Regions from separate parts of the Homo sapiens genome. Here regions 2, 3, 4 and 5 are each linked to region 1. Evidence: fine-mapped expression QTL. A gene starts in region 1. Each other region holds a variant in brackets. All regions are shown on one strand. Distances are from middle to middle.

Region 1 (5,098 bases):
ACCAAGTGCTGCATAACAAACAACTCCAAAACTCAGTGCCACGCAGCAATCAGCATCTCTTCCTTGCTCCCGTGTCTGCGGGTTGACCAGGCAGCTCGTCTAAGCTGGCTTGGCTGGGTTTGTCTCCAAGCTGCAAGTTGGATCCCCATGTCCTCCATCTTCCCATGCTTAACTGGGGCCTACCCCAGGCATGTCCTTCCCATGGCAAAAGTACCAGAGGAAAAGCAGAAACATGCAGGGTCTCTTACGGCCTATGGTTGGGGTCAGAGCGCTGTCACCTCTGCTCACGTGCTTTTGGCCAAAGTAAGTCTCAGGAACCAGCCCACAGTCAAGGGGCTGGAAATATATTGCCCCCACCAGTGGGAGGAGCTATAAAGTCACATGGCAAAGGGCATGGGTACAGAGAGGGGTGAAGGATTGGGAGCAATACTTCCATGTACCCCAGGTCTCAAATAGCCCTGATGATCTCCAGAAGGCAGAGCACGTCACAGGAGAAGCCCAAAGAGCATTTGGGGTCCAAGGAAGGAGGGGCCACAGCCAGCTGAGAGCCAAGAAGACTTCACGGAGAAGGCAGCAGGGGCTTGGATCTGGTCCTTGAAGGCTGGGCAGGATTCAACGCAGAGGCTGGGAAGCATATTCCAGTAGATACAACAGCCTGAGCCACAGCTCAGAGGTGTGCACAGAGAACAGGAAGTGACAGTTACCCAGCCTGGGCCATCAGGGACATGATGGAGAATAAAGAGAGGCTGGCTGTAGAGGTGGATGTTGGTGGGGGGCCTCGAATGCCTAGCGATGGGGCACAGATGCACTCAGAGGGCACTGGGGAGCCATCTATGGTGTTTGAGCAGGGCAGGGGTCAGAGATCTGCTCTAGGAAGGAAGCCTGGTAGCAGGGAGTAAGACAGGGAAGAGAGAGGCTAATGCAAGGAGACCAGACAGTGCCCAGGAAAGGTGCAGGACGGCTGAGCTCCAGGAACTGCACAGAGAGAGAATGAAGGGGTGCAGGGCCTGAAAAAAGGACGTCAGAAGCCACGTCCACAGGGCTTGGCCACTGATGGGCAGGTGCTGAGACAGAAAGGGACAGAGAGGAGCAGTGGACCCAGGGAAGGAGAGGGCCTCATTCGGAGCATGTTAGGCTGCAGCTACCACCCAGTAGTGAGGCGCAGGCCCCCCGACCAGGGCGACATGTGGGGATCTGACAGAGTGGGCTTGGGCCTTTGGGGACAAACCATTTCAATTGCCAAGGCCTTCGCAGCTAGTCACCCGCAGCCAGGCACCTCCAGACTCTACGTGCTCTCCCAGCCTCCCACTTCATTTACCTTCCACACTGCGACTGGGGCACTGATTTCCTGTCCCCCACCTTCCCCCATGGCAGCTACCACTGTTTGCTCATTCATCATGGGGGGACGGTTCTGCCTCCATTCAAAATCCCACATTCACTGGCGCGCTTTCTCAGCCGGAAGATGATGTCACGCTGGGACTTTGCTGGCATCCTGTGACACGCAGTGACCCTGGGGGTCATGACCCTGGGGTTGGGGCTCAGCACTTAGCCTCATCCCAGAGCTCAGCCTTGTTTGGCCTAGTCTCAAAGCATTTCCCAAACCCCAGGTCAGGACATGTGCCGTGGAGAAGGGCTCCTGTGTCCCTGCCTGGAGTGAGTGGCAGTGTGGAGTCCAAATAGCAGGTTCTGGGGCCTTCCTGCCATTTATAGCTACCGGTAGTATCAGATATACCCATCTCGGGTGTATCCCCAGAGGACAGGAGGAGCATGCGCGTGTGCTGAGCAGAGGCCTCTCCAGACCCCCTTGGCTGTGGGTGGTGGCCCCATACGACGGGGCCCCCAGCTCCCCTGCTGCAGACACAGTTCAGAGTTGAGTGGTATGCGGAAGCCACAGGCTCTGTGTCCCGCACTCAGATACCAAAGAGCAAGGCCTGCCCCTTTCGACCTGTGGGTCCAAAGGTTTGTGTTTCTGGCACGCGGGGATGGTGGAGGCAGCAAGGGTAGGCCTGAGGGACGGGCAGGACCTCCCCCTCACCTTGGGCTGCACCCCAACCCCACGCACCGGGAGTCAGCCTTGCCAGGTTGCAGCACGGAACTGCACTTCCCGAGCTTTTAGGGGAAGAGGCACTCGTGAATAATTCAGCCTCTTTCACTGAGATGAAAACGCCCTAATAGAACTAATGGACTCGCTGCCTCAAAACTCGACTCTGGTGGGACTCATCTCATTCACCAATTGCTTCTGACGTCCTGCAGTGACACTCCCTAATGAAAAAGCCGCTGTGCCAGATCCTTAGAGTGTCTGGTGATCCCTAATAAACCAGACTGTGGCCTTTTTAACGAGCAGACGCCCCCACGAAGGCAGGTGAGTCCTCCCTTCAGCCGCTACCTTCCTAGTGGAGATGCCGCTTGGGGGCACGCATCCGCGGGAATGAAAAATAACAGAGGAGACCATATTTTGGGGTGGTTTTGTCTGATCCGGAATTAGACCCTCCGTGTTTTTGCAAAGCAGAAGACCTTAAAAAAGAGCCAGCCTGAGGTAAACTTGGAATGACCGTGATGGATGGGGTGGTGGGCGGCAGGTTTCAGCCGGGCAGCACCTCTCGCTTGAGTCTGCTCACAGCCCAGACCTGCCCAAGGCTGACTGTTTTCCCATCTGCCGGAGACACGGGCGTCTAGCTCGTACCTCGCTGTGTTCACCATTGATTAAGATTCAGCATTTTCCAGTTTTGCCCAGAGCGCTGTCAGGGAGGTTTGGTCTTGTCTGAAATGTCTGTGCAGGAAGCACGTGCTGAGGGAGCCAGGGGCTGCTTGTTTGGGCCTCAGTTTGCTGATTGTCCTTGAGCGAAAATCATTCTGTGTTTGCACTGAAGCAATGCCGTGTCTTGTAGAGCCGCACCCCGGAATGGTAGCAGCTCCCCTTCCATTTCCGCTTTGGAGAACTCTGGCTGGGCTCTCTGCTCTCTGGACAGGTGTCACCATTCAGAAGAGATGCTCAGGGTTCCTTCTCAATCTCAGGTTGTATGCTTTGTTGGCTTTCAGTAAACAGAACAATTCAGAAATTCCAGGTAGAGGAGTCTGGGGTGAGGTAGTGATTCCTACTGACTTAATGAGGTTAACATCTTCCTTGCATTTTTCCATGTCACGGTGTTAATTCACGTGAATTCCCCTGGGCCCCTGATCTACAGGAATAGATTTGCACCAGGCAGGCCCAGCCCAGGAAAGAACTTGTGGGTTCCACGTAATTAGCAATGGCTATTGAGGAGGGGCTCGTTTTTCTTGGTACCAGGGTGGTGAGGGAGTGTCAGGGCTCAGAGACCCTCACTCTGGAAAGCGGCCGGGATTTGGGATATTTTGAATTGGAAGTCAGGGGTCACTGTGCTCTTGAGCACAGGAGAAGTGGGGACCCTGAGGCAGGAGCCCGGCAGTGGGGCCACTCTCTCCTCCCTGCAGTGTCTTACCGGGGGGCCCTTCGTCCAAGGACCTGACGCTGCTAGAGTCTCGGCAAAAGCCCAGAATAGAGCCCCAGTGTGAGGGAGTCCAGAGGTGTCCTCTGTCCCCAGGCACCGCTGGTAACGGGCAGAGCCTCTTTGCCTTCTGCCTGTACCTATCCTTCTTCCCCTGGGGCAGCCCTCCCAGAGTCATGAGCCTTCAGGACCACAGGGAGCCCCCGCTGTACAGAGTCCTGGCATGGGAGTCCCCCCCACACAAGAGAGGGTGACCTGCAAAGAGCTGCTGGGTCTGAGGTAGGAAGCCAGCCCCGCCCCCACCAACAGCTGCCTGGCACTGCCAGGAAATGCCCAGGTATAGCCCTGGTTGGCCTTTTGGAGCCTGGGCCTTGGTTACTGTTCTACAAATATCTGAGCCCCTCCTCTGTGCACGGGACACTCCCGTGGGCACTGGTCAGGGGGCAGTGGCAGCAGGCAGAAGAGTCCTTGCCCTCCTGGACCCAACCTTCAGGGGAGTCCAGCGGCCATGGGCTCCTCATGGCACCAGCCCTGCTCCTCACCCCACCACCCCATGCCAAAGGCTGCCATTTCTGTGCCCGCAAGTTCCCTGGCCCAAGCCCTGCCCTGGCACCATGGGGACAAGCTCGTAGCAAGAGGCTCTGGGCTCCCTCCGTGCCGCAGGGCTCCCACCTGCAGGTCTGCTCCCAGGGCTGCAACATGAGCTCTAAGGAAAGATTGCAAGCGGGCCCCCACAGGGAGGGACGCCCTCTAAATCCTGGCCACAAAACCCATTCTGTCCTGCCCTCTCTCCCCTCTCCCACTCACATCCCCAAACTCAGCCTTCCACCATCTTGTTGTGAAGGGGGCGATTATTCACATCTGTGTTCTCTTCCCTTAAGCATTTTCTAGGGAGATTTGGTGTCTGTGTGGCTCACTCCTCTCACTCAAACCTGTGGTCACAAGTTCCTTCCCGCCCTGCCTGCTGGCCCCTGGTGGTGGATTTTTCTTTCCACAGCATTTATCATAATTGGTGTCTTATCCCACGCCCCCCAACAGACTGTCTTCTGGCTGCGTCACCAACTCCCACCCAGTTGTCCAAAGCCTCATCTCATGCAGCCCACAGCAGCCTGGTACAACAGGCCTCTGCCCAGCCTACCTCACAGATGTGGAGGCTGAGGCCGGGAGCGGTCAAGGTGCCTGCCTGGGCCACACCATGAGCAGGTGACAAGCAGAGCTGCCCCTGTCCAGAAGCTGGGCACTCAGCCACCCCGTCCTCCAGCCCCGGGGCCTTGGCTATATTTCTAGAGCCAAACCAGACCCGGATTGCTTTTTGTGAGTAATGTCTTGAAAGCTAATGGCTATTGATCTCAGCCTGGTCGGGCCAGGCAGGGAACTTGCGTGTCTGAGGCTGGTCCTGCCTTTCAGAAAGAGCCCTGGGGCTACAGCCTGCCCAGCTGGCCTTCTTTCTAAACACAGACCTCAGGGAAGTGAGGGTTGGCCCCCATTTGCCCCACACCGGACTGGCAGCTAGCCACATGGCCACCTCAGAAGCAGCTGCCTGCCACGCGCATGGAGGGAAGGGAGTGGCCGGCCAGTAGGCAGGGAAGGGAAGCTGGTGCTGCTGTCTGTGGGTGCCAAGGGCCTCATTTCCT
Region 2 (5,098 bases), 190 kb before region 1:
ACCTGGGACTCCAATCACATGGTCTCTCATCCCCTGGTAGGTTCTTGTGGGCTTATCCCCATGGTGCCCTCAGGGTCCTGAGAGCTCAAGAGCAGAGCAGCAGGCAGAGTGGGCCGAGCCCAGGCAGGGCACCATGCCACCCCCGCCGCATCCTAGTCATCCTAGCCCCAGGGGTAACACAGACCCCACCATGATGGGAGACTCCATAGAACACCACACCTACATTCAGGACTTATCCCAGGAAATGTCTCCCCTAGCCAGGTGCCCGGCAGCCCTCTCTAGGAGGCACCACCACAGAAGGAAGAGCCAGCCACGTGGGCGATTCCAGGCAGAGTGCAGAGAAGGCCCTCGCTCTGGCTAGGAGTGGCCTGCATGGGCTGGTGGGGGAGGCTGGTGGCAGCCAAGGCCGACGGGAGGGGATTCGTGGACTGTCAGGCAGCAGAGGACTCCAGGCAGGGGGGCAGCTGAATTGGCAACATTCAATTCTTCCAGGAATATTCTTGGAGAGCCTCTGGCAGGGAACAAAGACAAACTCCATGTGTGGCAGGCGGACAGACATGAAGGAGCTGAGAGGTGCTGTGGAGAACGGGAGTCCCAGGGAGGGTGATTTGGGGAGTGGGATGCAGGGGAGGCCTCTCAGATGAATGGGCAATCAAAGCTCCTTCCCCACTGAGGCCGGGGAGTGAGCCACGTGGCTACCTAGGAGAAGAGCATTCCAGGCAGAGGGAAAGGCATGTGAATGCCCCGAGGTGCAGCCTGCTGGACACATTTGACAAGCAAGGAAATGTGTGGCCAGAGCCACAGACCAGGGGAGGAGTCAGCAGAGGGGAGGTGGGAGCAGTGGCTCGGGCTTGGGGCCATCCCATGGACTCCAGCTGAATGATGTGGGAGCCACTGGAGGTCCTGCCTGGACTGGTGTGTTCACAGGGTGCTGTGTCTGCCATGGGGTGGGGGGATGGCAGGAGACAGTCAGGAGCCATGGCAAAACCTCCAAAGACAGCAGCAGGTGCAGACCACCAGGAGGCTGATCACCAAGGTGTATTTTTGCTGAGCATGGTGTGCAAATCTCCAGCAGGATCAAGAATGACCCAGATGAGCCCACATGGCCAGCTCTCCAGCCTGTCCAGCAACCAGGAGCATCTTCCTGAAACTGCACTTGCTTAGGCTGCACGAGGGCCCAGCTCTGAGCAGAGATGTCTCCTCTCGAAATCTCACCCTTTTGCAGGCCCTACACCTTGAGAGTCTGGGGAAAGCTACGGATCCTCCCTCCATGAAAATTCCTCTGCACACAGAATTCTGCACGTGATTTCACGGGTTTCAGAGACTCCTGACTGAAAGGGGAAAGGATGGGAGATCCCCCTGTATTAGTCCATTTTCACGCTACTGATAAAGACATACCCAAGACTGGGCAATTTACAAAAGGAAGAAGAGATTTAATGGATTTACAGTTCCACGTGGCTGGGGAGGCCTCACAAGTAGGATGGAAGGCAAGGAGGAGCAAGTCACGTCTTACATGGATGGCAGCAGGCAAAGAGAGAAAGCTTGTGCAGGGAAACTCCCATTTTTAAACCATAAGATCTCGTGAGACTCATTCCTTATCACGAGAACAGTGCAGGGAAGACCCACCCCCATAATTCAATCACCTCCCACCAGGTTCCTCCCATGACATGCAGGAATTGTGGGAGTTACAATTCAAGATGAGATTTGGGTAGGGACACAGCCAGACCATATCACCCCCTTTCCCCACAGAGGAGAGCACAGGGGAGTCTGGTGCTTCCTCAGGGCCCGTGTGCACAGGGCCCCACATCACCCAGCTCCTGACATGGCCAGCAGCATCCGGCCAGTGTGCAGGCGATGGCTGTGTGGCGAGGCTGGGATCTCCGAGCCTGTAAGTGTCCACAGGCTGTCTTTGTTCTGCCTGCATCTCACTCCATGACAGCAGTGGCCCCTCAGGGGCAGGGATAGTAAAGGAACCAATGACAGACATGGCATCTGCTCTTCTTCTGGGGGTGGAGGCAGAGAGGTGAGTCCAC[G/A]AGGAGACCTCAGCCACCCTGTAGCACACGCCACCCCTTCCAAGCTCACTTCAGACCTTGGTGGGTGTGGTCTGCCCAGCATTCCCCCATTCCCCCAACCCCCTTCTTCCCTAACAGCCCCCAGGGAGCAGCCTCCCCCAGGCTCTCTAACCACTCCAACCAACCCTCCTGCTCCGGGGCTGGAAAGCCAGAGCCACAGGTTCAGGGCTGGACATATAACTTAGCCAGAGAGAGGCACAGAGTAAAGCCTGGGCCCTTCACTCCAGAAAAACATAACTAGGAGTTTGAAGCTAGCACTGTCCTTGCACTGAGGGGAGAGCCTGTCTGAGAGCAGAGCTGACACCGAAAAGGCAGAGTAAAACCATGGAGGGGCATGGGCTCCTGGCAACAGAATCTGAGCAACTGGATCCAGCCATGCCTGAAGACGGAGTTTCCCCAGAAGGTATGAGAAACCATCACAGCTGCCTTCTGGCTTATGCTGGTTTGAGCTGGGTGTCTGTCCCTTGCAAACAAAAGGCGCCCAATAGCATTGGTCCAGTGAAAGTCCAACAAATCCAGTGTGCAAACAGAGGACCAGTTCATGTGAGCTCCCAGCAAGCAGAATTAAGGTGGACATTTTAAATGATGAATCATTTAGGGGACCACTGTGGGGGGTCAGCAATGTGAACAGAAGCCTGACAGCTACCCTCGAAAATCCCAAATTTCATAGCCCACTGCACAAGGCTGACCCCTCCCCTGTCCCGAACTCCCCACAGACACGGGCCAGGACTCGCTGCACGGGGAGCTGCCCACGCGGCACCCTGACCCTGGCACTTGCTCTTGTTCCAGAGGCAGAGGGAGAGCACTGAGAGAGGACGCCACCCACCCCGGAGCCCAGAGAATCGGGGCACCTCCATGCAGGGCCCAGCCACATGGAGCCTCCCGCAGGCTGATGGCCCAACAGAGGGAGGACAGGGTCCCCCCAGGAAGGAAGGCTGGCTTGGCTGGAGAAGAGAATGCTAATTAAAGATCCCCCATTCTCAGCTCCCTGCAGAGACAGGACCCTATGGGCAGAGGGAAAAGGCCTGCTGAGGCAAGGCCGGGTCACTTCTGTCCACATCCCATCGGCCACACCCGCAAGCCGCAGGTGGACACCCCTCCCATAGCGACACTGCCAGTCAGATGGCGTTGGGCAGGAGGGGCAGCAGATGATCAGGGACAGTCCTGCAGCGCACCACAGGGGACCTGCTGCACCCAGCTCTTACCTGGTCAGCTCAATGCACCTTCATGGAGGAGACCAAGGCACAGAGAGGCTTCAGAAGCAGGAAACAGCCCAGCCCTGCGCCCTGAGCAGGGCGAGTGGTTAGAGAGGGTGGGATGGAGCCAGGAGAGGATGGGCCTGCAGGCCCCAGAGAGGATCCTTGCCTGCGTCCTACCCTCTGAAAGGTTTACGCAAAAGAGGCGACAGGATCAGGTCTGTGTTTCCTGACAGTCGCAGCAGCTGCCATGAGCACTGGATGAGAGGGCGGCGTGAGGGCAAGTGAAGCCCGGGGTGGCCCAGGAGGGTAGTGTGGACAGCACTGACCCTGGTACCAGGGCCCCACATGCCTTGGAGACCACACTCCTTCCCTCAAGCCCCTACTAGCTGTCTCAGAACCTGGGTCCGTGTTGAGTCACACACACAGGGGCTGTTGCTTCTTTCCCTTAAATGTGGGTACAGCCCCCACCTAGAGGTTCTGCCTCCAGGAGAAACTCACACTGGCGCGTGGCTATTTCAAGGTTGAATTCTTGTGATAAAGTTTACCTTGAGAACCTGGAGTCCCTACTCAATTCAGGACGGCTGACCAGCCAGGATGACGCGGCTTCTTCGTGGCCAAGGACGGCCACCCAAGGGGCTTCTCTACACGCACCAAGGGCCACCCTGTCGATGGGGTCACTCCTTAGACTTACACCAGACCTTCTCTCCCCAGCACTAGGGACCTTCATTTGCTAATTATGTGACTATTTAGGACCTCCAGGGAGCTGCAGGTCCCACGACTCCTATGTTCGCTTCCTGAGGCTGCCGTAAACAACTGCTGCAAAGTTGGTGACTCACAGCAGCAGGAAGTTATTCTCCCACAGCCCTGGGAGCCAGAAGGCTGAGATCAAGGTGAGGGCAGGGCAGGTTCCCTCTGGAGGGTCGGAGGGAGAATCTGTCCCAGGTGTCTCCAGCTTCGGTGGCTCTGGTAATCCCTGGTTTGTGGCTCTCTCTAGCCTCTGCCTCTGTCGCCACGGAACCATCTCTACGTGTCCCTTTCTGTCCCATACGGACACTCTCCCTGGGCTTAGGGTCACCCCAATCAACATGACTTCATCTCAAGCCCTCGTTTCATCTGCAAAGACCCTCTTCCCAAACAGCCGGATTCTGAGGTTCTGAGTGTATGTGAGTTTTGCAGGGACAGTATTCAACCCCTGAAGTTGGGGTGACTGTTCCTCAGTCATCCATTCTCCCACCAGCAAGGGGTTTCCCAGGACCCCCTCGGAGAGGTGAGGGGTAGTGTTGAAACCCAGGGGCCTGGCCCGAGGTGGATCTGCCCAACCTGCAGAGAAGCTCCCGGGCGCTGCACAGCCTCCTGTGGACCCGCTCAGGCGTGGTTTTGGCTTGGGGTCAGGAGAGCCAGTGGGGCCCACGTGGCATCACCAGCGGAGTGCGGCAGGTGGAGCGCCAGCGTCCTCCAGGCAGGAAGGGTCTACATTCTTCATTTCCCGTCTGTAGGGTGGCATCCTGCACAGGGCCAGAGAGACCCACTGTGCTTGGGCCGTGCGAGACAGCGACCCACCTGAATACCTCCCGTGGGCACGCCACCAGCTGCTCCTGAGCCCTCTGTCTCTTTCTCTGTCAAGGCCTCAGCGCACCTCCCGGTAAGTGCTACCCGAGGTTGCTGGGGTGAGAGCGGCAGCGCCTCCGTCCACAGGAGAAAAAGCGGTCATCAGGGAAGCAATAATGGCTGTTTCCCCACCCTCTTAGAACCTGAGGCAACAATTTTAAAAAGTGTCTTATTTCTAAATACAGACAAACATAGCATTAAATCATTATCAAACATGAG
Region 3 (5,098 bases), 48 kb after region 1:
ATGAGAACACCTTGCAAGTGAAGGAAAAGCAAAGTGGTGTTGGAGCCCCTCGCCCCCAGCCCCCCATCCCCTCGTTCCTCCTTCCTCCCGTGCATGGCCCCCACCCCTGGGCTTGCACTGCTGAGCTCCGCGGCGGCCGGGGGTCCTCTTGATCTGAGGATGCTGTGATCCCCACCTGGAGCCTTGACCCTGGATGGTGCCATGGGAAGGGTTGGGGAAGACCAGGTTTCCACAAGGAGCAAAGCCATCAGGGACCCCAAAACACGCGGCCCCCCACCGAGTCTTAGCTCCTCCATGGTTTATGTTTGCTAAGCTCCTGTCTCTCCTGGAGGCAGAGATCACCTGGCTTGTCACGCTGCCCCGTCCACAGCACGCTGCTCCTCGGACGGCATGCTGGCTGCGTGTCCCCTCTCACCAGGTTGCCAAAGCGCTCCATCAACGTGGAATCATTTTCCTCCTGAAAGAATAACCACAGGAGCCGGCAGCCTTCTGAAACCAGGGGGTGGCCTCTGGCCACGCACAGTCTCTCTGCCCTCCCCACAGCTAACGGCCCCAGGACCCCACCCCAAGGGCAGGTGTCGATCTCCCTGGGCCTGGGCCCCTGTCTGCCAACTGGTGCTGCCACCTGAACCCCCATGTATTATTTGTGATGCGGCAGGAGATGCTGTGAGTTTTGGCAGCAGCTAGAAGGATTCAGTCTTCCTACTTCCGTTCAACCCCATTAAATATTGAGGTGAAGGACAGTTGTCCCTAATTGTCCCTGGGTCTGGGGCCACTGATATCACACTTGGGCACAAGTGCAGGGTGCTCCCTCATGTGGGCTCCCTGTCCAGCCTGCTTCTGCCCAGATCCTCCAGGGAGCCCAGGGGCCTTTGCCTAGGACTCCCCACCTCAGGACAGCCAGAGGCTCCTGCCCCGTCAGCCCCGTCTCTCCATCACTGCATGGAAGGGGCGCCGCAGGGCAGCATGCGGTTTCACTGGCTGGGACCTTGGAGACCTGAGACAGCTGCCGGGGAGGGAGAGTGAGGGAACGGGGCTGGCCTTGGGGGCCTTGGCTTCCCTCTGTCTGGCATGTGGACCTAAGCCTTGGCTGAGAAGAATCGGGAACTGATGCTGCATGCTCACAGGTGCCCCGAGAGTGTTTCTAAAAAACCACAAGGCCGGGCAGGCCAGGAGCCCGGACCTGGGCAGGATGTAGTCAGAGATTCTCCTGGGACCCTCTAGGTTCTCCTCAAACTTTCCCAACCAGGCACTTCCTGAGGGTCTATCGGAGTTGGCAGTTAAAGCAGGTGGCCCAGGGAGGTGGCCCAGAGAGTTCAGACTCCCTCCCAGATCTCCACCCCCAGGAGGGGACAGAGAGGATTCCCAGGAGCTACAACCTCTGACCTTGGAAGTAAGCAGAGAGCAGGGCTGGGCCTGCAAGCGTGGAAGCCAAGGGTGGTTTGCCAGGGGTCCTGGGTGAGTCTGCCGAGACCACCACTCCAGAAACCCCAGTGGCCTCAGCTCTAGCCTTTAGGAGGCCCCAGGTTCTGCTCAGGGTGGACCTCAGTAAAGGGGCACTCAGGGAGCGACCCCCAAAACAGAAGTGGACGGGAAGCCAGCACTGCCACTTTGTGGCCTCGTTGCCATTCCAGGGGGGAGCCTGCAGAACAAACCCAGCATCTTCCATCCTTCCTTCCTTCCCATCAGCCCCACTCCCAGCATTTTCAGGACCTCAGCTTCCACGCAGCATGGGCAAAGGACAAGCAGGCACTGAGGGAGAGCCAGGGCTTTTCCAGGGTCAACGTTGTTGCTGTCTTTAGAAACACTTGCACTCCCACTCACTCCCACACTGCCTTTGGCGGTCGAACTTGCAAGCACTGTATCCGACCCGTGAGAAGCCTAGCGCCATAGTCCCTCGCCCTGCAAAGCTCAGAGGCTTCTGAAATTTGAAATTTCGACGCCAAGTTCTGTTTTTAAAATCACAATATCCCCATGAGGCTGAGAGGGAGCTATAACCAGCAGATTGCTGTGTCTCAAA[G/A]CCATGTTTGAATATTGGGAAGAATCCACTGTGTCGCTGGGGCGAGGGTCCCTCCTCTCTTCTTTAAAAGGCCAGCGTGAAGTCTCCGCGATTTCATCCTCAGGGCCTTAGGAGTCTCCGCCGTCCACGATTCAGGTTGTTCCCAGGGCTCATGGAGCCTCAAAACTGTCCTACTCCAGGCCCTGGCCCCTCACAGGAGGAGCACCCAGACCCCTGTGGCCCTGGGACCACCCCTTGCCAGGGGACAGGCGGGTTGGGACTCTGGCCTGGTGCTGGGCTGGTTTGAGAACCTGGGCCATGGTCTTACAAGGCTTTCCACGCCCACTTCTCAGTCTCCTGGACATGACAGGAAACATGAGCTCAGCCCCGAAGCCCTATTCTCCGGGACCATATGGCGCCCCAGGTCCTGCCACATCTCCTTATCCAGCCCACTCTCTGTTCCAATTAGACTTTGGAATAGCCCGAAGTAGGAGACCAGAAACGCAAAAACACATGTCCCTCCTGCCGCCAATCTGACTGTAACGTTCATGCATTCACCTGGTCCTTCCTGAGTGATCGGGGCCCTCGAATCTTCCCCAGACCAGAGAACCTCCAGTTCTAGAGTCCAGAGCCACATTCTTTGATTGTCCCCTCTAATCTACCATAGAAACATCACGGTCCATCCATAACCCATTTTTCAACATTTCCATAGGCCTGTAACCAGTCGGGGAAATTGTTTTCACGACCAACTTCTAGGATTGTGGTTCACTTTTCTCTTTCATCCCAAAAAACCCCTCCCACACCCAACTTCAGAGCCAGGAAGTACACTGCTTGCAAGACATCTTCGCAGCCCCTGTCCCTCCTCCCAGCGTCCTGCCTGTATTTGCAGAATGTCCCGAGGCTGGCCCTGAGCCCTGGCTGCCCCCCACCTGCGGTTTCCCTTTCTCTCACGACAGAGACCGTCCGCGCCATGACCCACGTCATCAACCAGGGGATGGCCATGTACTGGGGCACGTCACGCTGGAGCTCCATGGAGATCATGGTACGGTGGCCGCGCAGCATGTGTGTGTCCAGGCACAGACTCCCGGCACCGGCTGCGTATGGAGACCCCAAAGCTCTGGCGGGGTCTGTGCCTTTGGTCCCAACTGCACCGATGCCTGGGTGCTAAGGGAGGGACAGGATGGTGGAGTGTGGTGGTTATGTCTGTAGGCCTTGCAGACGGGGATTCTGCATGGATCCCAGCGCTGTGTGGCCCTGGACAAATGGCTTAACGTCTCTGAGCTTGTTTCCCCACCTGTAGAACACATCTGCTAGGTGAGCCCCCATGGGGCCATTCTAAGGAGTCCCTGAGAGAGCCAGTGTGAAGCTCTTAGCAGATGCCCTGGAGCTCAGCAAGCACTCTGGGGTGACAACACCGTCAGCTGTTTCCACTGGGCTCCTGAGACGTGCCCGGTGCTGTTAGGGTCAAGGGTTCCACAGGGACCCTCTCACATGCAATCCTCACCGGTGCCTTTACCAGGTGAGTGCCGCAGGCAGCCCATTTTTCAGATGTGGACACTGTGGCACAGAGAGGTTCAGTAACATGCCAAGGTCACACAGCTTGGGCCAAGATTAACATCCAGGCTGTGTGGTTCAGAGCCTGGGCTGCTCATAACTGGACCCTCCGGCCTGGGGGTCCCACCACCCACCTCCTTTTCCCAGCTCACCAGGGCCTGCCTGGCTCCCAGGGAAGCTATGAGTGTGAGCAGTGGGGAGCCCGGGCTGCAGCTGCTGGGCCAGCCTGCTCCGGGGACACCTTGGTGCCCTCTCCATGGCTGCCCCGGCAGCCTCCCGCCTGCTCACAGGCAAGGGCCCTCGGGGTCCCTTTCTGCCTTCACAGGAGGCCTACTCCGTGGCCCGGCAGTTCAACCTGACCCCGCCCATCTGCGAGCAGGCTGAGTACCACATGTTCCAGCGTGAGAAAGTGGAGGTGCAGCTGCCGGAGCTGTTCCACAAGATAGGTGGGCACCCTCGGGCCCCTCGCCCCGCCCCACCCCACCCCTGCTCTCGGGCCCAGGGCTTGACTCCACCTGCTTTTCCTCTTCAGGAGTGGGCGCCATGACCTGGTCCCCTCTGGCCTGTGGCATTGTTTCTGGCAAGTACGACAGTGGCATCCCACCCTACTCAAGAGCCTCCTTGAAGGTGAAGGAACAGCCTGGTGGGGAGGGACGGGCAGGGGATAGGCATTTTGGACGGGTGGGACCTTTGGGCCGACTGCTTTGGTGCTGGGCAGGGGTTCCGGGAGCTGCAGCTGTTCCCACCTCGGTCTGCTGGGGGCGGGCTCCTTGGCGTGAGAACATGGAGCCCCTCCTGGCCTGATCCCATGTGTAGAGGGGCTGCCCAGCCTGTGGCACAGGCCCAAGTGGAGAGGCCCTTTCACATCCCCCCCCCTGCCCCCACCACATCCCCCCATCTCTACCCCCTACCACATCCCCCACCTCTGCCCCCCACCACAGCCCAGCATTCAGAACTCTGAGACCCCTGGGCCTGGGCTCCGAGATGGGGGCTGCAAAGCCACATGGAGGTGACCCTGGGAGAGGCGCCCCTCCCCACCACACAACCTCTGAGTGGGGACTCAGGAGGGTCCCCAGACTGCAGGATCTGGAGAACAAGGAGCAGGCCAAGAAAGTCTGCCCAGCCAGCAGTCTCAGCACTGGGGCCCACAGCCCTGGGTTCCAGGGCAACGTGGCCTGGCCCCCGACTCCTCCCATCCCATGGCAAGGTCAGGGCCCCCCTCCAGGAGGCCCTGCAATCCTCTGGGGGGGATGGCCAGGGGAGAGAGCACTCCCCTAGGGCCAGGAGGTTCTTCTGGGCCACGGGTGGCAGCCGAGACCCCAGGCTGCCAAGTTTCCTAAGAGAAGGAAGGCCAGCACCTCGCCTCCTTGTCCTGACTTGGGGTTGGGCCAGCACCACAGTCTTTGCACTTCAGAGCCTGGACAGGCCCCGCTCATCCACCAGCCCGTGCCCGGCCCACTGCCCACTCTCCCCTACTTGAGAGGCCTGGGGCAGGGGCACTGCCCTGGCTTCAAGATGAGAAGAGCCCCTATGAGGGAGAAGGGT
Region 4 (5,098 bases), 55 kb after region 1:
CGAAACTGTCATCTTCCATTATCCACGAGATTGATAGTATTTTGGGCAATAAACCCTACAGCAAAAAGGACTACAGATCCTAAGCCGCCCCCGCCCGCCTGCTCGGACAGTTTCCGTTCCCTCCTAGTCTCTGTTCGCTCGCTTAAGCTGTTTTGAAGCCAAGTGAAGAGTGTGGTTTGCATCCAAGAGAAAACACCACACTGTGATGTCATCGGGAAATGATCTCCCAAGTCGCTGCCAGACACCACCCACTGCTTCGCCGGACAATGTCGAAGTCCAGTCTGTGCCGGGGAAGGCACTGGTTAGGAAGGATGTTCAAACGGTCCCACCCAAGCCTGTCACCTCTGCTCATCCTCCAAGACCACCCAGCTTTCTCCCAGCCACAGCCAAGATTCCCAAAGTCAAGGCCCAAAGATTTCCAAGGTTCCCAAAGTCAAGGCCAGGCCAAGGCCTGGTTGGGTCCTTGGGGCGGGCAGGGCCAGCCTCTCCTCTGCTGAGAATCCCCACTTGGTGTAGGGGGAGAGGGGAAAGGGGTCTGGCCCATCGAGGGGCCCCTTCTGCCAGGGCCTTGGTTGCTGGGGCAGGGCCTCCCCACTGGGGGTCTTCCTCCACCTCCCACTTTCCAAGGGCTCCAGGAATCTGGGGCCTGACCACAGATTCCTCTCCCATCCTTTTCTGCTCCAACCTGCCCCACTGGGTCCCGGCAGGGGCCATGCCTACCAAGCTCGAGCTGGCCCTTGACCCCCACCCACCCCCACCCTTGCTGGCAGGGGCAGGGACCCCAGGGGGATTGACTCTGCAGTTTGGGAGCCACAAAAAGCGTAGCGGTGTGATTTCTAGCTCAGCCTCCCACCGTCTTCCTCCTACACACCAATGATGAGCCTCATGCCAGTGAGGCCCGGAGCGCTTGGGAGGGGTCCCAGTGGGGCAGGCCCCTCTGTCTGGCCACCCCTCTGTCCTGGCCCCGGAAGGCCCTGTGGTCATGTGCTCCTAGCTGCACGGTGGCTGCTGGCCACACCACGGCAAGTGGCAGCAGGGGCCGGCCCTGTGCACAAGGATGCACTCCTCTCGGCCCCTGTAGACTTTCTCTAAAGCCGCCCGCCAGCCCAGGCCGCTGCTCTGCACCGAGCTGGTGGGCTTGGGTTTTGTGGAGCGCATGCTTGGACCCTTTCAGTAAGGAAGGGTCTTTGGGGTTTTCTGTGCCCATGACTTGGGGGCTGCACCCCCACAGCACCCCCACAATGTAGGAAAAGACCTCAGGGAACCTCTCCCTGGAAAGACGGGCAGGGCTGGTTAGCCCCTCCCACTGCCTGACACCTGGGACAGGCTGGGCAGAGGGGAGAGAGGGCAGGACAGGCCAGAGTGACGCCCCCGTGCAGCTTGGGCCGGAGGGCAAGGGATGCCAGTAAGTCTGCAGGTGCGGGGTGCCACCTACAGGCCCAGGCCTGTGTCCCAAGCAGTACCCAGGCTTTGCAGACCACGCGGGGCAGGGCTCCACTGAAGCCACCCCCACCCCTCGCCAGCTAGCTCCATAGGGAAGCCTGTGTCTCCTGCCCCCAGGGCGCACCCTCAGTGCAGGCACCTCTGTTCCCGCTTTGCCCCTGGAGGAGCCACTATTCCAGAAGGCTCCACCCTGCCGTCCTGCGGGAGCCTGCTGTCCAGTCCTGGCCGGGCCAAGGCCTGGGAAACTGTGAAAGTCAGAAAGGCCAGCGGGGAGAGGCTGGGGCGAGGGGAGGAGGGGGATCAGCTTCTGCTATTACCGACCCCCCTTCATGCTGCCCCTGGCGCCTAGAACCCTTGCCCCTCCTCATAGACCAAGTCCCGGGGGTCTCCACTCAGTCCTGCTGCCTGCTTCACCAGAAGCAGCCCTGTGAGTGTGGGGTGGGGAAGTCCCTTCCCAACGGAGGTCCCAGCCTATGGCCCTGGGCCCAGGTGGGGGTCGCCTGCTTCCTTCCCGGACAGGGTCCTGCAGTGGCCAATGGTGCCAGAGGGCAGGTGGCCCACCCTCGCCATCAGGGAGGGTGGCTGGCCCCATCCCCACTGCCACCCAGCCCCACCCACTGTTGGAAGAGGGACCAGCGCGAGGTGGTGCCCAGGGTGGGCACTGCTGCTTAATGCGAGGCACACCTGGGGCAGCTGAGCCCCCAAAGGCTGCGGGTTTGCCAAACACAGAGAGGCCAGGCCCCAGTGTCAGGATGCAGTCAGCCTCTGGCGCAGCTCTTTCCACGACCTGGTTCCTGGATGTCCTGCTTGCTCCACACCCATCTACAGGGAGGATGTGAGGGGGCTCTGCCTCCTAGGGCCAGGTCCCCCCTCTCGGGAGGAGGTATTGGGTAGGACCATCCAAGAAAGGGCAGAAGACCAAGGGCAGTCGGGGTCTAGAAAGGAGGGCGCTGGCCCTGCTGGACGCTTCGGAGCCCCCACTGTTTCCCACTCAGCTTTGTGCTCAGATCCCAGGTCCCAAGGAGTGACAGGGGCTTCCTCCCACCTTCTGTCCTTGTCCAGTCATGTAAATAATGTGCTTTTTCTCTCCCCGAGTCTTTTTTTTTAAACCTACCGTGGTTCCTCAGCTAACTGCATTCCCTACCCAGGCAGAGACTGTCCTATGCCTCGAGCTTCCAAACGAGACTCAGACCGCGACACAGCCACCGTATTTATGGAATGACAAAATAAATAAAGCCCAAACCCATCGGTCTCTGTGACTTTTTGCTCCTCTCATTTCCTC[A/G]GGGTCAGGGCTGGGCCAGGGTGACACGGGAGGGGAGGAAAAGGCTGCCAGCAGCAGGGCCTGGGGCATCCCCCAAACCGGAGCCTGCAGCCAAGGGCAGGTGGGTTGGAAAGGGCCCGTGGAGAGAGAGCGGGGACAGAGAATGGGGACAGGGTGGTCAGAAGACCTGTCCCCCATCTCTCCCAAGCGATTCAGCCAAGGGAGGGTGCGTGCCTCCCCTGCCGCCCCCAACACACACATTCTCTTTCACCAACTCTGAGGGCCCAAAGCTGCTTGCTGGGAGGCTGCTGTCCCTCTGGGGACCTGGCTGGCTGCTGTTCTCATAAGGACAGAGGTCCAGGCCTGGGGAAGCTCTCATGGTATGTGTTTGGGGTACAGGTGAGAGGGGCCTCACCCCAGCACACCCCTGTTTCGGGCTCCCCTCCTTCCCAGTGAGCCCCTGCACCCGTGAAATGACCATCCCAGGCAAGAGAAGGCTTCCGGACACGCCCCCACCCCCCACCACTCCTCCCTGGCCCCAGCCCCCACCCCCATTCTAAATCTTGAATCTTAAAAAGAAAAAGCCTCTGATTAAATCCTTTCCCAAAGGATTTATTAAAACACAGAAAACCAAAACATACACACAGAGTACAAAGTAAAGGTGATTGTGTTGGCTACAGCCTCTGTCCAGCCTCCCGTGGGCGAAGACCAGACAAGCCACGGCTCACAGGGGAGCCTGGCTTCCAAAGCTGGACCCGCCCCCGCCGGGGCCACCCTGGCTGGGACTCCTGGCGCGCCTTGCACCCAGCCCAGGGCCCTCCCTTTGCCAGCCTGGGGCTGTGCCTGGGGAAAGGGGTCGGCCCCCTCTTAGCTGGGCCTGGGCCGGTGGAGTCTGCTCCCTCCACACCCCTGAACTCAGACCCCACGGGCCAGTGGGGACCCTCCCTTCCTCTCCAGGGGTGCTTGGGCTCCAATCGCTGCTTGAGGAGTTCAGGACACACACACACACCCAACGGGCCCTTTCTGGGTTATCGCACCTAAAAAAATACTTTGTTTAAAAAAAAAATCTGAAAATTAAAGAAAAAAAAAACACAACGCCAGTGAGTTTGGGCTGATGCACCACAACCTGTAAACTTTCAGACACAGAAAACAGGACAGGAACCAGCTGCCGAGGCCGAGGCGGGCCTTGCACAGAAGAGACTTGGGGGAGGGGCCGAGGCCAGGTCACCAAGACGGTGAGGGCAGAGGGGCGTGCCAGCCTCGGCCCCCACCCACGCCCTGTCCCCTGCCCACAGACCCTGACGCACACTGGAGGCTCCAAGTGACCGACACTTGACCAAGTCCATCTGGCTTCTGGCTCCCATGTACCCGAGCCCACTCTCCACTCCACCTCCTTGGGCCTCAAGTGTCCTGGGATGACAGGAGTGAGGGCTGCAGGTGTCACCGGGCCAAGGCTTGGTCAGCTCCTGACCTCGGCAGGGGAGCACCCGGGGGACTCTGGGAAGGCAGCCCCCAAAAGCAGGAGGACTTCAATCATAGGGGGCAGGGAAAGTCCAGCCTGCCCCTGGGGGAAGCCAAGTTTGCAAAAAACGCAGGAGCTTCGGAAGGTGGCTTTCACGGGGGACGCTGCTTCTGCCTCAGGCGTGTATGAGAGGGCCCTGCAGACGTGCTCACTCCACCCCGAGTCACCTGAGCCCATGGGGCAATGCCTTCCAAGACCTTGGCTCAAACATGGCTCTGCAGAAGCCCTACTCAGCACTGGCTTAAAGTGGCTGGAAATTTCCAATCGCAGACTGGCACTTTGGGCTCGCGTTCATGCCCGAGGACCCTGATTCTACCAGCAGCAAAAACCAAACCCAGCCCAAAGACGCCAAACATACGGACACCACCATCACCACTTTTGGCAGAGATGACTGACAAACCAAGAAGGACATTCTCAGATCTTTTCTCCTCTCCCAAACTGGTCAGCCCCAAACCCGCTCTGACTCTAGTAGCCCACCCCTCCCGGGCCCCGGGGTGCTGGCCACGGACAGCACCACCCCTTCTGGACCAGGCAGTGCAGGGGGCCCAGGCCCAAAGGAGCCCTGGCCAGGCTTTCCTGGGTGCCCGAGTCTAACCAGGCAGAGGAGAAGGGAGCCCTGGCGAGGCCTGGGAGGGAAGCAGAGAGGAAGGGACAGAGCAAGCCTGCCTGAGAGGAAGGCGCACAGGGGAGGGACCATCAGCCCTTGGGGTGGAGACACAGACCCCTGCCCTGACCGCCACAGGCCTCCAGTCCTGCTGCTCGGGACCTATCTGCTGTGGGCCAAGGAAGGTGGGCACTGCTCCCAACGAGGGCCAACCCCAGTGCTTGCCACTGCTTGTTTGGGGACGAGGGCACGGGAGTGAGCTTCTGAC
Region 5 (5,098 bases), 170 kb before region 1:
CCTGAGGCCTGGGAGGAGGCCCCAGTCATGCCCTGGCCCTGCCCTGGCCTCCCTCTAGTCCCTCCCTCCTCCCTGACCACTGAGCCCACCAGTCCTGTGGGATCAGGCCAGGCCTCCTCACCCCGTGTCTTCTCACCATGCCTCTTCCTCGCCCCATCAGACTGAACTGAGCCTAGGGAGGGACCGAGGCGTCTGCATCCACCTTTGAGCACCAACGCCTTGCTGGCAGGGAGGCTGAGTGGCAGCCCTGCTGAGTTTACTGTCAGGAAAAGGGCCACCTCTGTTCAGACCCCGGCCTACCTACATGCAAGGGGGAATCTCAGGAGATCTTTCTCAAGGCCCCTGTGGTTCCCGACTTCTATGAACCCAGGAGGTACAACCATTCTCACCTCCCATTTCTTAGTAGCAAAATATTAAAAGTTCTATTTAGATTTTCAGCCAAAAAGGGGAATTTTTCTAGCCAGAATGATTACATTGACAACCCAGGATATGTCAGTTGTTCACAGCTCTGGTCCCCAGACCTGGGAGAGCCTCAGAATCACCTGCAAAGCTTTCTTCAAACCCAGGCTCCAGGGGTCCTGCCCACACCAATCAGTATCAGAATCTCCAGGGGTGACGCCCAAGAACTGGCTTTTATTAAAAGCTCTCCAGATAATTCTCACTTAAAGATTTCCCCCGGTGGCTGAAAAAGTCCGATTTTCTTATATTCTGTCCCCAGGATTTGGGAGGAAGGTAAGAGAGAATCATGTGGGAGGCAGGGAAAGGATGTGCACAGTGACTCAGTCTGCATGGAGATCCCAGGACAGTGACAGCTGAACAAACCCTTACCAACACGCTCGTCCCGCGCCGGCCCAAGTCTCCCCCGGCCTCCTGCAGGCGCACAGACCTCATCCGCTCCAGCTTACGCCTGCGGGTGGCATCCGACTCGCGGCTGACGTCCTGGGGCCCCTTGCCCTGCCGGGCATGGGTCAGTAGCATGGCAGCCAGCTCACTGTCCACGTCCGCCAGCTTCTGTGCTTGCACCACGTGTTTTCCTGCGAAAGGGTCAGAGCGCGAGTCAGGTAGACGTGCAGTGTCTGCCTTCCAGGAGCAGACACCAGGGCAGGCCTCCCAGGACCACCTATATAGGGAGGGAGCTCAAGAGTGCGGCTCATGCTTTTTGCAGCTCCAATCTGCAGAGTTCTGAGATCCAGATAAAGATGATAACTTTATACCCTGGTTTCCACAGCATCCCCTCCTTTCCTCAGCCTTCAAATTAAAAGCAATTCTGACTCTGGCCCTTAGATCCAACGCTGTCAACACACCACCAGGGGGTTTTCTAGGGAAGAAGGCCACGTTCTAGAAGCCCATGCTCTCGGGATCTTAAAGGGCCCACTAATGCCTTCACCCAGGGCTGCTGGCCTCAGCCCCTCGGATCAGGAATGGGGGTAAGGGGTTGTCCCCTTGGCAGGAGGCCTTCAGTGAGTGGGGGGCAGGCGATGAAGCTCAGAGCAGGCCTGGCCCCCAAGCTCCTGCTCTCAACTCCATCCCAGCTGACCCTGGACTGCCTGGCCCCCAGGACAGCCCGCCTCCTCTGGGGTGGCCCTACTCAAACCAGGGACACACAATGACTCATTTAGCAAACCAACAGAAGCTGAACAGGGTCAAGCACTGGCAGGCAAAGGCTCAGCCACTACTGGATGGGCCAGGCCCTTCCTTCCGACACAGAGCAGGGGCTTGGGGTGTCGGGCGGGGCTGTGCTGGGTGACCAGGCCACGCCAAAGGCTGACACATGAGGCTCCCAGAAAATCGCTCAGCCCGGCACAGGCAGGGCAGCTGAGAGGCGCCCCAGCTTACCAGCTTAGGGCCTGGGTCCTTCCTCACTCTCTGGCACCAGCAGAAACTTCCCACAGGAAACCAATGCCAGCCCGAGCTCTCCCAGCCTGGTTCCACTTGTATGGGGCATGGGCACCCCCTGCAGAAGCCTCCACACAGTGGACAGCAACGTGACCCCCG[C/A]CTCCTTCTCACAAGGAAACAGTGCCACTGTCAGGTCCCTCACCACCATCCAATTTTAACGCCGGCAAACTGCTCTGCAGATGCCCCGCGTGGCTCTTACAAGTCTCCGGCACAGGCCTGGTCTGAGCTACCTGCAGCCACGGCTGTGAGTGGAGGGACCTGGGGCCTGCGCAAGTTGGGGTTTATCATGAGCTCAAGTTTTCAGATTGCATCACCCCAACAAATACCTCTCGTGGTCCCAATGAAACCAGAAAGAAAGTTACAGAGTGACCGTGAAACTGCACTTGGGGTAAGGCACGAAGCACTGAGAACCTTCTTAAAATTTCGTGCAACTTGCTAATTGCAGAGCCTTGCCTCATGGGTGAGACATGTGCTTTTAAGGGACACCTCCTGTCCTGGTCCTGAGCAAAACAGGGTCTGGAGGATCACTGACCTCAGGGCCTCTGATTGTCTCAGCAAGGCCTTCTGGGTTCCTGCTCCCTGACAGCTGAGCTCCTGACCTGCTGCGCCTGGAGGCAGGGTTTTATCAATAACCTCAGCCTGGCTCCTGGAGCTCAGGGACTTCTCTCTAAGGAGCTGGCTCTCCACCGTACTCTAGGTGGTCTGTGGGACCAGCTGAGGATGAAGGGCACTGACCCCAGGGCAGGGAATCCAGATTCTAAGCCAAGTTCACCCCTTAGCCACGGCACTGGCCAAGTCACCTGACCTCTCTTCGTCTCAGTTTCTTCAAAATTACAATGAGGAAGCTGGCCCAGAACAACAGACTCTATCTGCCTGGATCATGAATCCCTTTGAGCCCCTCATGTCTGCTCCCAGGGAGAACATACAAGTTTACCCAGAGTTTCAGGGGCCTTGTGGGATCCTGGAAGCCTTGCAGGAGGGAACCCAACGGCCCCTCCCACCTCTAACTGCCCCTCCCACCTCTAACAAGCCACAGCTCCAAGGCCCAGCAACACACAAAAGCGCACGGCAGCTGTGAATTCACACAGATGATCTGCAACCTCTGGGGAAAATGCTCCTTAAAGAGCACTTCCCACTTGTAATTCAAATGACAAGTACTTTATACTCAGGTCTGTGAGGCCTTACATTTTAAGGGGATAGAAAAACTTCAGAGCCTCCCTGCTGTGAAACACATTTTCACCAAACCCAGGTCTTCCTCTCCAAACCAGGTCTTTCTTTCCCAAGCTCCATAATTGGCTTCTTTCTTCTGTTCACAACATAGGGTACTTCAACTTGTTTTGAAAATCAGTCTATGTTCCTCCTGACCTTCTCTCCATTTCTCCTTCCCTTGCAGATGAGCAGCCAACCAGACACAAATGCCACTGGCAGGGTTCCCACTTCTCCAAACAGCACAGTCGCCTGCAGAGCCCAGCCTAGAGCACCAGGGTGTGATCAATGTGGTGGCTCGGTGGGGCCTGTGGGTCCACAGGGGCATCTAGCCAGGGCACCGAGCTGCATATGGACAGCACAGTCCTGCCCTAGATGCAGATGGGCATTAACAGCACCACGAATGGTGCGCACACACACACACACACGCAAACACACACACACACGCAAACACACACACACACGCAAACACACACAGACACGCACACAGACACGCACACACACATGCACACACAGACACGCACACGTGCACACATGCAGCCTTCCACCTCTCACACGCCATTCATGACCCACCTGCACATGGACAGCACAGTCCCGTCCTAGACGCAGAGGGGCACTGACAGCACCACGAATGGTGCACACACACACACATGCACACACGCATGCACACACACACACACGCAGTCTTCCACCTCTCACCCACCACTCACGACCCACCCACACATGGGCCCAACAGTGTAAACTCACGCCTTGAGCTTCCAGTCGTGAGGAGGCTGCCTCCAGAGAAGCGGCTGGCTCCATCGTTTGAGATGACCCGAGATCTGGACGGTGGCAATGTGCTACAACCTCTCACTTTCTGTTCACACGGGTGACCTACATGAAAAACATCCCAACATAAGACATGAACCCCAAATGAGAATCTGATGAAACAGATCAACCCACCACATAAGCGGCTGTGGCTTTCAAATGGCCTATCTACACCCTGACACGCTAAGGCCCCACCGCCTCTGTTTTGAATGTTTTGCAATTGAGAGACAGGTGGGAGCTCGTTCTGCTGCGAACTTTCAGCTAGGTCTTCATTCTCCTGCCGTGTCAGTGGCAGCCTCCGTTTCCTGGTGACGAATGAAAGCGTGTGGCACTCACAGTTCGCTGCACATGGATTCTTACTTCTGGATCTCTGGGTCGCAAGGCGGGCTGCCTCACAAACTCTAACCTCGGCCTCTCGATGGCCACATTGATCAAGGATAGGCCTGTGTGCATTTACACGTGCAAATGTCTGGCTCCACACACACCCAGGGTGAAAGAGCCCCCATAAACTGGAGCCTTCACCAGAGTTGTGTTCATAACAGAAGGCTTTGGCAAGCAAGTGGTGTGGCCTCGGGACAAGCGTGTCTCACGGCCGGTGGGTGTGGCACCCTACAAACTTGCAACTTGCAAACCTGAGTGTCCTGGGGGAAGCCGTGCTTGCCCACGGCACACTCTCCTGCAAGGATGGGACCCACAACCTCGGTGTGGCCTTTACTTCCCCAAGGGGCGAGGCAGAGCACCGCCAACGAAGCTGTGTCCCAAAATGAACCACCCAGGGTACGCACAAAATGCTTGTGCCATCAATTTCCTTAATTCCGACGAGGCAGTGTTGAGTGCCCTCGGGCCTGGGATGTCCTCACCATTTTCCCGGGAGCTGTTAAAAACGGGAACCCCTTCCCCTGGGCTTCCTGCCTCTCTGCATCCCTTCACTCCTGCCTACCCTCAGCCCTAGGGGAGGGAGGGACTTCCACACTGGCCAGGTCCCTCCTTGGCTGCAGCAGATCCACCTGCTGCGCCAGGTTCCTTCCCCTCTTGCCCGTCAGAAGCTGCTGTTTTCAAGGACGAGCCCAGTGCTGGGAGCACGCCCACGTGCAGGCACCTGTGGAGGTGAGCCATATCCTCCGTCCAACCCAGGTTCTCCTGGTGACAAAACCAGAGCTGGCTGACGGAGGTGTCTCTCTAGAATGGG

Direction of the effects. Alleles are on the strand shown, and positions count from the first base shown. SD is a standard deviation of normalised expression in the study named. Not every link is listed here.
In carriers of allele G in region 2, the expression in skeletal muscle of the gene that starts at base 2,067 in region 1 tends to be higher than with A alone (small effect, 0.22 SD a copy in GTEx).

What was found. PIP is the estimated chance that this variant, and not a neighbour inherited with it, causes the effect.
Region 2: its variant is the best candidate, but not a certain one, in a credible set for the expression of KCNAB2 in skeletal muscle (GTEx, PIP 0.81).
Region 3: its variant is the best candidate, but not a certain one, in a credible set for the expression of KCNAB2 in whole blood (INTERVAL, PIP 0.87).
Region 4: its variant is the best candidate, but not a certain one, in a credible set for the expression of KCNAB2 in whole blood (TOPMed, PIP 0.66).
Region 5: its variant is the best candidate, but not a certain one, in a credible set for the expression of KCNAB2 in whole blood (TOPMed, PIP 0.51).

The regions. Positions count from the first base shown.
Region 1 is chr1:6,043,822-6,048,919 of GRCh38, forward strand. It overlaps KCNAB2 (potassium voltage-gated channel subfamily A regulatory beta subunit 2), which reads left to right and starts at 2,067. Exons shown (of 16, transcript NM_001199862.2): 1 at 2,067-2,362.
Region 2 is chr1:5,852,522-5,857,619 of GRCh38, forward strand. No RefSeq gene overlaps it. Among named protein-coding and RNA genes, the nearest start is that of MIR4689, 7.7 kb to the right of the region's middle. RefSeq lists enhancers at 526-1,370, 4,994-5,098. The variant G/A (reference allele first, on the strand shown) is at 2,034.
Region 3 is chr1:6,091,445-6,096,542 of GRCh38, forward strand. It overlaps KCNAB2 (potassium voltage-gated channel subfamily A regulatory beta subunit 2), which reads left to right. Exons shown (of 16, transcript NM_001199862.2): 11 at 2,956-3,041; 12 at 3,879-3,999; 13 at 4,086-4,180. Among named protein-coding and RNA genes, the nearest start is that of KCNAB2, 48 kb to the left of the region's middle. The variant G/A (reference allele first, on the strand shown) is at 2,021.
Region 4 is chr1:6,098,492-6,103,589 of GRCh38, forward strand. It overlaps KCNAB2 (potassium voltage-gated channel subfamily A regulatory beta subunit 2), which reads left to right. Exons shown (of 16, transcript NM_001199862.2): 16 at 1-2,689. The coding sequence ends at 83. It overlaps CHD5 (chromodomain helicase DNA binding protein 5), which reads right to left. Exons shown (of 42, transcript NM_015557.3): 42 at 3,296-5,098. Among named protein-coding and RNA genes, the nearest start is that of KCNAB2, 55 kb to the left of the region's middle. RefSeq lists enhancers at 3,638-4,139, 4,009-4,178, 4,140-4,639. The variant A/G (reference allele first, on the strand shown) is at 2,726.
Region 5 is chr1:5,876,265-5,881,362 of GRCh38, forward strand. NPHP4 (nephrocystin 4) reads right to left here. Exons shown (of 30, transcript NM_015102.5): 19 at 3,850-3,975; 20 at 829-1,034. Among named protein-coding and RNA genes, the nearest start is that of MIR4689, 16 kb to the left of the region's middle. RefSeq lists an enhancer at 3,544-4,048. The variant C/A (reference allele first, on the strand shown) is at 1,996.